Linked DNA regions of Homo sapiens: region 1 is linked to region 2. The links come from fine-mapping of genetic effects on gene expression. A gene starts in region 2. The other region holds a variant in brackets. All regions are shown on one strand. Distances are from middle to middle. Region 1 overlaps ABI3BP (ABI family member 3 binding protein). Region 2 holds the start of ABI3BP (ABI family member 3 binding protein).

Evidence for each region. PIP is the estimated chance that this variant, and not a neighbour inherited with it, causes the effect. A credible set is the group of variants that fine-mapping cannot tell apart.
Region 1: its variant is the best candidate, but not a certain one, in a credible set for the expression of ABI3BP in pituitary (GTEx, PIP 0.78).

Annotation. Positions count from the first base shown.
Region 1 is chr3:100,840,501-100,844,904 of GRCh38, forward strand. It overlaps ABI3BP (ABI family member 3 binding protein), which reads right to left. Exons shown (of 68, transcript NM_001375547.2): 21 at 1,498-1,539; 22 at 320-358. Among named protein-coding and RNA genes, the nearest start is that of TFG, 130 kb to the left of the region's middle. The variant A/C (reference allele first, on the strand shown) is at 1,854.
Region 2 is chr3:100,990,681-100,995,084 of GRCh38, forward strand. It overlaps ABI3BP (ABI family member 3 binding protein), which reads right to left and starts at 2,741. Exons shown (of 68, transcript NM_001375547.2): 1 at 2,626-2,741. The coding sequence starts at 2,704.

The DNA of each region.
Region 1 (4,404 bases), 150 kb before region 2:
TTTGGGATAAAAATTAAAATTTGGCCTAAGATTTAAACAGATAAATTTTTCACTTAGCATTTAAAATATCCACAAATCAACAATATATGCAGAAGGCTTTAAATTCACTAATTATGTCAGGACAGGCAACTTTTAAAAAATGAGATACAGTTTATAAACTATACCTATAGGAATTAACTTTTTTTTCTGAAGAACAGAGCACTCACACACACACACAAAGGGACATTAATGTATTAATTCATTAATGTGAGTCTGTCAACACAGATACCAGCAGACAGGAAAAGAAGAAACAAAGGTCACCCACTCAATACTCTATTACCTAATGTTGTTGAAGGTTTGGTTCCTGGTGTTTCAGGTCCTAAGACAATGTGAAAAAATCACCAAGAAAGAATCAAGATCAAAGGAAAAATGACATGTATTTAAAACATGGAATATGCTTAATTTTTAATTACTAGATTGAGCAAATATAAATGGTGAAGCTTTTATCCACATGCAAAGTTTCTTTTCTACTTCAATAGATTCCTGTGTTTTCGACAAAGCGAACAAAAAAATGTAGCCAGTCAGTTAAGTTTGGAAAGAGAAATGGAACAAAAAGGCATGATTCTCACTTGGAACATGTGACTGTAATAAAGTAACCAGCAGTTCATGTTATGAAGGAAAATATGGGTAATTGGCTAAGATGGCATTAGAACACTTTTTTTTTTTTTTTTTTTTTTTTTTTTTTTTTGCTCTTTTGAAGAAAAAGAAGCTATAAAGATTGGGGTTGGTTTTTCTATTTCTCTCTTTGAGTGGATTTCCTAGTCCGTGGCACTTTTCAAGAAAATCTGCAAAAGTTAGAGTTTTGAAAGTAAGAAAAACACCTCCAAAAGAGAAAACATAAATATATCCTATGAAAGTCAGGGTCCTCCCTGGCAATAAACAGGTTAGAACAAGCTCAGGGCATATTCCTCAAATGTAATTGAAGGAGAATAAAGAATCTATCAAATTAAAATTAGTATTGCTTTCATGGGTGTCTCAGAACCACTGCTAAGTCAAGCACAGGCTGAGAGTATATCTTCGGGCAAAAATGGCTGGAAAAAGATCTGAAGGAAAATTAAGAAATATTAGGCTGGGCACAGTGGTTCACACCTGTAATCCCAGCACTTTGAGAGGCCGAGGTGGGTGGATCACCTGAGATCAGGAGTTTGAGACCAGCCTGGCCAGCGTGGTGAAACCCTGTCTCTACTAAAAATATAAAATATTAGCCAGGGATGGTGGCTCAGGCCTGTAATCCCAGCCACTTGGGAGGCTGAGGCAGGAGAATTGCTTGAACCTGGGAGGCAGAAGTTGCAGTGAGCTGAGATCACGCCACTGCACTCCAGCCTGGGCAAAAAAACGAGAGTGAAACTTCATCTGGAGAAGAAAAAAAAAAAAAAACAAAACCCAAAGCTGAACAAAGTTGAACATGGAGAGTGTTAAAGATACTTTGTTTTCACTCATTAAAAAAAGCTTTATTACCTATTGTTGACTGTGATGGCAGTAGAGTCTGAGGTTCTGGGGCTGTAATAAAAGCAAGTAATATCAAAAGCAATGCTGAAGAGCACCATCTGAGATAGAAGTGACATGTTCTTGACTATAAACGGAGTTCTCTCCTGGGTGAATGATTAGGTTCTACTGGCTTCTGCCAGTGAAGTTCAACCTTCCACATCCTCTCTACAAACCACAAGAATTGAGAATTCTCATTTTTGTTGTTGATCTTTAGCTGTTACCGTCACTTCCCAATATTCTGGTTTGCCTCTGGTGCTGAGGAAATACTAACTTAGAGGGAGTTCTGGGTAGCCTCTCTGAGGTTGTTCAGAGTGTCCTGTCACCTG[A/C]TATTTGTTTCTTGCAGGACAGCCAGGTTCATCCAAGGAAATGGAACAGGCAACAGACTCACCACCTGGTACTGTGTCTGTGCTGTTAGTTTGCAATCTCCAGCTTGGCTGGACCTGACGTTCTCTCACAAAAAAGATAAGAATTAAACTTATTGTTCAAAAGCGACCACAACTGTTCATATGATGCCTCCTGTATTCACTAGTATCTATCGCTGGTAAACAAATTGGTTCACATATGAAACTTAACCCATTTGGACTGGTAAACCAATGAGTCCAAAAGCAGTCTCAGATTTCATAAGATGCTAAATTAAATAACAGTATCTAAATATTCTGATAAACTTTCCAATGTTTATTCAAACTAGCAATAAGTAAATTAAACTTCATGTTGAATTTAGCTTGGTTACAATATTTGGGCTTAAAAAAAGATTACCCAATAGGTTTCTCATTATTCTATCAACAAAAAGTATTGTTTAAGGAGAAAATTAAAAAGGAATTGTTTATTTTTGAAATGGAAAGAAAAAGTTAAGATTCTTTGACTTTTCTTAAAGAAAGAAACTAATCAATGTGGCTTTCATAGACCATCTTAATAGAACTGAAGTCATTCTTCTACTTATACATTTCTAATATTAGACTTATCAGGAATGATCTCTGATATTACTTGACAAGGGAGTGTGGCAGGTTTTGAGAATACGTAGCGACTAAAAAAGAACTATAACAAGTTTCTATGTAGCAACTAACAACAACTACTTCAATGGAAAAATATAATAACGCAGGTACAGAATTTTTATTTCTTCTAAAAGCAATGCATAACAGCATAAGGTGCTATTTAAAGGCATTATCATCCATTAACATATCTGTGATCAAAAAATTTTTGTGTTGAGGCTAAAGAGTACAAATTAGGTGCAAAAGAAGCAGGTTAAAGTTGTTTTTAAAAGCCCCGAATTCTGATTTCTCAAGAACTTGTGCAGAAATAGATTGTAACAGATGAACGGCAAAAGCAGTAGTGATGTGTCAGACTGAAGTTCATATAACAAAGTAAAAATTCTGAGTGTGTGTGTGTGTGTGTGTGAGTGAGTCTGTATGACAGAAGAGAGAAGGGAGGAGGGAGAGTGTGTGTATGTGTGAGAGAAAGGAAGGGAGGGAAAGAAAGAGAGGGAGGGAGAGGATGTGTGTGTGTGTGTGTGTGTGTGAGAGAGAGAGAGAGAGAGAGAGAGGGAAGGGGAGAAGAAAGAGTGTCTGGGAGATGGAGAGAGAGAGGAGAGTATGCATGTGAGAGAGAGTGTGTGAGAAAGAGAAAGGGAATTGTATGTGTAAGGGAGTGCATGTATAGGTCTAAGTACCTCAGATGCTATAGGACAAGAAGAAAATAAACATCAATACATGAAATACAATAAATATCAAATAAGCATTCATACCTGAAGATAGCAAACAAAAAATTATTTTGAAACTTCAAGATTGTAATTCATGTTTTTGATTCTACAAAGTTGCCTTCCACAAGTGAAAAATAAAATTTGCTACTCATTGCATCTTTTAGACTTCACAAAAATTAAAGAACGTTGTTTTTGAAATTATAAGGAAAAATCTGCATTTTTGAGTTCCTGGCTGAGTTTGAGACCAAATAGGGATAGAACTCCATCAATTAAGCTTCAAAGTCAATTGCACATAAAAACAGTAAGGTCTATGTTTAGTAAAAATAAATATATCTTCTGACACGCCTTCTATTTGACAATCATAAGGTATTATAGGTAAAGGTATAAAATGTTCCATAACAAAGCTGAGTGGTCTGTAAATGACTAAGCCACTCATCTCAGCACAAAACAAAGACAAATTTGACTCACATGTGTGTAGGAATGAGAACAATTTACAATTCTATCCACGTTGGAAGACGGTCAAGTGAAACAAACACCTGTAATTGGGGGCACCCCCTTATTTTCAGTCCATTAGAAGCTTAAAGATTAAACCATGAAGGAAACAATTCCCACTGGACGAGGTAGACAAGTTAAGACATGGTAGGTGGCTGTGGTTTTTGAGAAATGCGCTGAATTGTACTTATAAAACAAGCCCAAATCAATGTGGATTTTTACTCGTTGACTTAACCACCAAGCAAAGCCAAAGGAAAAGGAGCCTGTAAAGGAAAGTGAAACAGAAAAATAGAAGAGTGTGCGGAGAGGGCTGGGAAAGGCCTCAAAAAGCTTTGGGTGGTGTATTTGCTCTTCCAAACCTTGGCTAGAAAGAGACATCTTTAGGAGAGCTATAAAGGTGGTCTGCCCTAAATAAAAATAAATAAAATTTAAGAAGCTAAAATCAAAGCAATGGTTTGCGGAGATCCAGTCATCATCCTGTGTTGCTATGGACCATTCAAGGTCCATTTGAGGGCACAGGCCTAGGTGTGGATTCTGAAGTCATTACATTGCTGTTAGAGGAAAAGGGGTGGATTTTCTTTGATGATTAGAAGGTTTAGAAATCAAAGGAATGTAAACACATTAGCCTCCAAGTAATTCTTCCCATGTTAAAAGGAAATGTCAAATTAAGAAGTCTTTTTGCTCAAACA
Region 2 (4,404 bases):
AAACTCTTTTATTCAAGGAATAGGTAGCATTCACATGTACACTACAGAATGTCATTCCTAAGGCTGGGGTCAGAGGAACCTGCCTATCTGGCAGGAGGCAGGTTAGAACATGGATTTTGAATGAGAAGCTAGGTATCAAGTCCTGGCTCCACCATTAACATGGGAAAGTTACTGAATCTGCCCTGCTTTGGGGTATCTTCATTTGTAAAATAAATGGTTATGTTAGGTCAGTGGTTTCCAAATATTGGCCTGTGATCAATTTTTCATTAGTCTGTGGGAAAATGAGAAAAATAACAATGGACTTATTTATGAAATTAAATTTATTTATTGTATAAATCTGTTAAAATTGTTTACTTTTATGAACACTAGACATTCTCCCCTGTTCCCTTTGAGCATCCTCACATAGCAAAATTCAAGTATGCTCTCTATAACAGGACCCTGATGTTAAAATATTTGTGTATTTTTGTTGGTCCATAAATCCAAAGGTCTGGGAATCACTAGACTAAGTGATCATGAATATCTTTTCTAGCTCCAGAATTCTAACCACTTCTTAAGTCACAAATAGTATTTAACCAACTCTAAAGTAGAAGGAAGAACAAAAGTAAAAACTTTTACTCTTTTTTCTTCTTTTTTAACTCAACATTTCCCCAAATGTGTCCTGTGACAGACAAACCCCTGTTAAGATATTATAGATCTTCTATGGAAAAGAGGATTCTTAGTCAAATGAGTGTGAGAAACAAAAAGTTGTACAGGTTTCTTTATTGAGAATGTGCAAACTGCTAACACTTATTGTGATTCCCCCCTTAAAGACTCCACAAGTTATTGACAGGAATCAGCTGCCCTTCCACCCTCACCCCAAACTCTACCCATTGTAGGACAAACAGTGCACCTATGCCTGGAGCACAGTTTGAAAAAGATGACTTCAGCTAAAAGGTCCTCAATAGCTTTCCAATAAAGAAAAAACATAATATTAAAAACAAGACTTGCCATTTCTTTTATCATTATTATAATTTGATGTTTTTTTCCAAATTACCAAAACTACAAATATTTTTTAAATAAACAACAAAAGTTTTGTGGCCATTTTCGACAACTATGTTTTTTTTTCTTTCCCATTATAAATAAAGAAAAATTGTGTCAAGAGATTTGTGTCTAGTGATTGCAACACGATAATTAAAGCACTGGGATTGTCCAGAAGTTTGCAGTAACAAAGTTGCACCTATATCATCCCTATGCAATGAATAAAAAGTAAAATAAAAGTCTTCTGTAGGTATTAAGACTGAGAAAACCCCCAGACTCTTCTCAAATGATATGTTACTGTTAAATATTCCATTAGTAGGTACAATTAACTCTGAATGCTTGTGGCTCATAATTGATTTATTTAAATCACAGTTTTATTGTGATCAAGGAGCAAAACTCTTGGTAGAAAAAGATCTAAGAGTGCTTGTTTTTTATTTTTCTTTAATTATTTGATCAGAGTTGAGAAAGTTTACTTAGTCTTTTTTATTGCTGTTCACATTATCGTGTGAAATATCAACTAGCCAACCGCTTCAGCCTTCACATGCTGGATTCAAGTTTCACTTTACCCACCGAGGAAAGAACAGTTTTCACTTGGGACAAGATGATCCTGGGGCAGACTACCCAGAGAGAGGACCTAGGGATGATCTTTTGGATATTCTGACACTAGCAACCTTTCTTTCTGACTTTAGGCACACCAGGTTCTTGACAAGCCTGCAGCTCTGCATTACTTCTGATGTTTTCCATCATGACTGTATGGTAAATTCCAGCCTGTTTTTCACAATCCTGCTGACTACAGCAGTCTGCAACCATAAAAAGCCTTCACAGACCTAGAGTTGGCTTAGAGAAGTGCCTCTGCAGAGAAACAAAAGTACATGCAACATTTATGTTCAGAGACAGGAGAGAGGCAACAGCCTCTTGTTTTGGTTTCTGATGGGCTCAAAGGGTTGTTTTTAGGGTCAAAATTTAGAAATTTTAATTTTCTTCTGATAACATTTGTAAACAAAATACCAACACTAAAATGAGAGCAATTTAGCCAAGAAAGGGGGGAGTGTCCTGTCCAACAGCTCAAGCCCTCTTCCAAACTCCACTGGAGGGACGTGTCTGCAAATCAGCACATGACCGTACTTTGGTCTGACCTGCCTAGACTCCCTCAGCTTCCTGGTCAACAGGTATGTTTGAGGTTCACACCAAAGATTCAAGGTTTCAGAACCAGCTTCTTTTGAATCTTAAGCTAGTACTGATTCAGTCTCTGGGGAGGAGGATAAAAACACCAAACAACTCTTTCTAACAGACTATAATATCCATTTACACAATATGATTCAATACACAAGCACTATAGTTAGAAAGTATACAGTTCAAGCTCTGATGAACAGCTGCTCAATGTAATAAGTTTGTTTTCATTTTTGCAATAAAGAGCTGTAATTGAAAAGTAAATAACAGGAGGGGAAAGTAAAAGTTTAAGAGACCCCTTCACACATTTGAACTTTGAATCTCTGCAGAATAACTCTATTCCCCCCGTATGGTAAAGCAGATCATATTTAAAATCAACATTTAAAAACATCTATATCTTAATATTATTTTTAAAACATAAAACATCAGGCTACTTGCCTTTTGGCAATTTCTGTGCATTTCCCAGGGCTAGTGTAATACTTCCACAGAGAAGTAGACACCCCAAACTGGAGAGCATGTTGCATTTGCCACCTCGCATGGGGAATGATGCTGGTGGGTGCCTCGCAACCCTGGAGCTGCATTTAAGTGGACTGTCTCCCAGTGACAGAGGCGGGCGGCTGCACTTAGCTGTGCCGTGGGCTTACTCACAGGGGGTGGAGACAAGATGACATCACACCCTTTCCCACACACACCAAAAAAAAAAAAAAAAAAGCACAACAGCAAAAACATATCATCACATTTCTTTCTTTCTGCTAAGTTGTAACTGTGTCTCTTCCTTCTGTGATATAAAAATTCAAATTATGGCAGATCTGTATTTGTGAAAGAAGAAGTATTTAGGCAGTTTTGAAACATTTGATAAACTATTTTAAAGAATCCAGAAACAATGTACTAAAAGCTATCAAAATGTTAAAAATATAAAATAAAACCTTATTAAGAAGGAAACTTTTTAATTATCCAGTAAACCAACCCAATTCTTTTAAATGGGAGTAAACTCATAAAGATATATTTTGAGCCATTCTGTAGTTCCTGTATTATGAGAAACATTTAAGAGTAAGTCTTTGGCTACAAAGCTATACATTACGTTATAATATATATGTGTATACACATATATTCAACAGATGTAGATGTAGAGACGTAGAGAGAGCACTATTACTATGTGAGCCTCAACTGTGGACTGAGTTCTGTAATCGAGTCTTTACCTACTTTACTGTATTTTAATCTTCCCAGTGCCTCTGCAGGAGATATGGCATTATCCCCATTTTGCCATTAAGAAAAGCTGAGGAAAAAAGGTTAAGTGTCCTGACAATGCTAGTATATTCTACTGCTTAATAACGGATGCCACTTACTAATGAATTGTCCTTGAGCAAACTTCATCTCTATATTATCAATATTGATGACATTTAAATGCTTGCTCCGTGTTAGGCACTGATCGAATCAGTTTACACATGTTAAGACATTTATTCCTCAAAACGGTCTATGAGGCAGGCATTGTCATCATCCCCATTTTACAGATAGATAAACTGGGCACAGAGAGGTCAAGTGAAAGTCCAAGGTCACAGTGTTGGCATTTTAAGCAGCCCATTTAACTATAGTGCTTCCAGTCTTAATTACTACATTTTAGATTCTAAAATAAAGATGACAGTATCAATTTCTTACATTTGCTAGCAGTTTTTCGAAAGTAGTTGCCATAGAGCCTGACACACAGGAAACATTTACTAAATGGCAGTCACTGGAAACAATAATAATGAAAATGATAAGCCCCCAGTTAAGTAGAACTATAATTCTAACCTGGGCATATTTACCTCTGAAGTCCACATGTGTATCCTTTCCCCCTACATCACTTTGGTCAAAATATATAGACGCATGGGTGGAATGGCTGGGTTAATAAAGCACTTTAAACCTTGTTGGTATATTTATACTGACTCTTTGAAAATCGCTTACCTCATTGGGGTGCTGTAGCTGAACCAAAAACAGTAAGAGAAAAATTAAATAACACTGGTCAAATGAAATTCTAGTTAGAAAACTTATCAAAAAGAAAAAAGAAGAAAAAATGGAAGAGACAGCCCCGTCTTCCAAATAAAGTGTGAGAAGGCACCTTGTTAAAGTCATTTAGAGTTGGCTGGGTCTAAGCTCTCACCATAGGAATGCTCTGGCAGTGACTACAGGAGGCACTGGCTTATTTAACAGGTCTTTTTCATCTCTGATTTTTTACTTGAA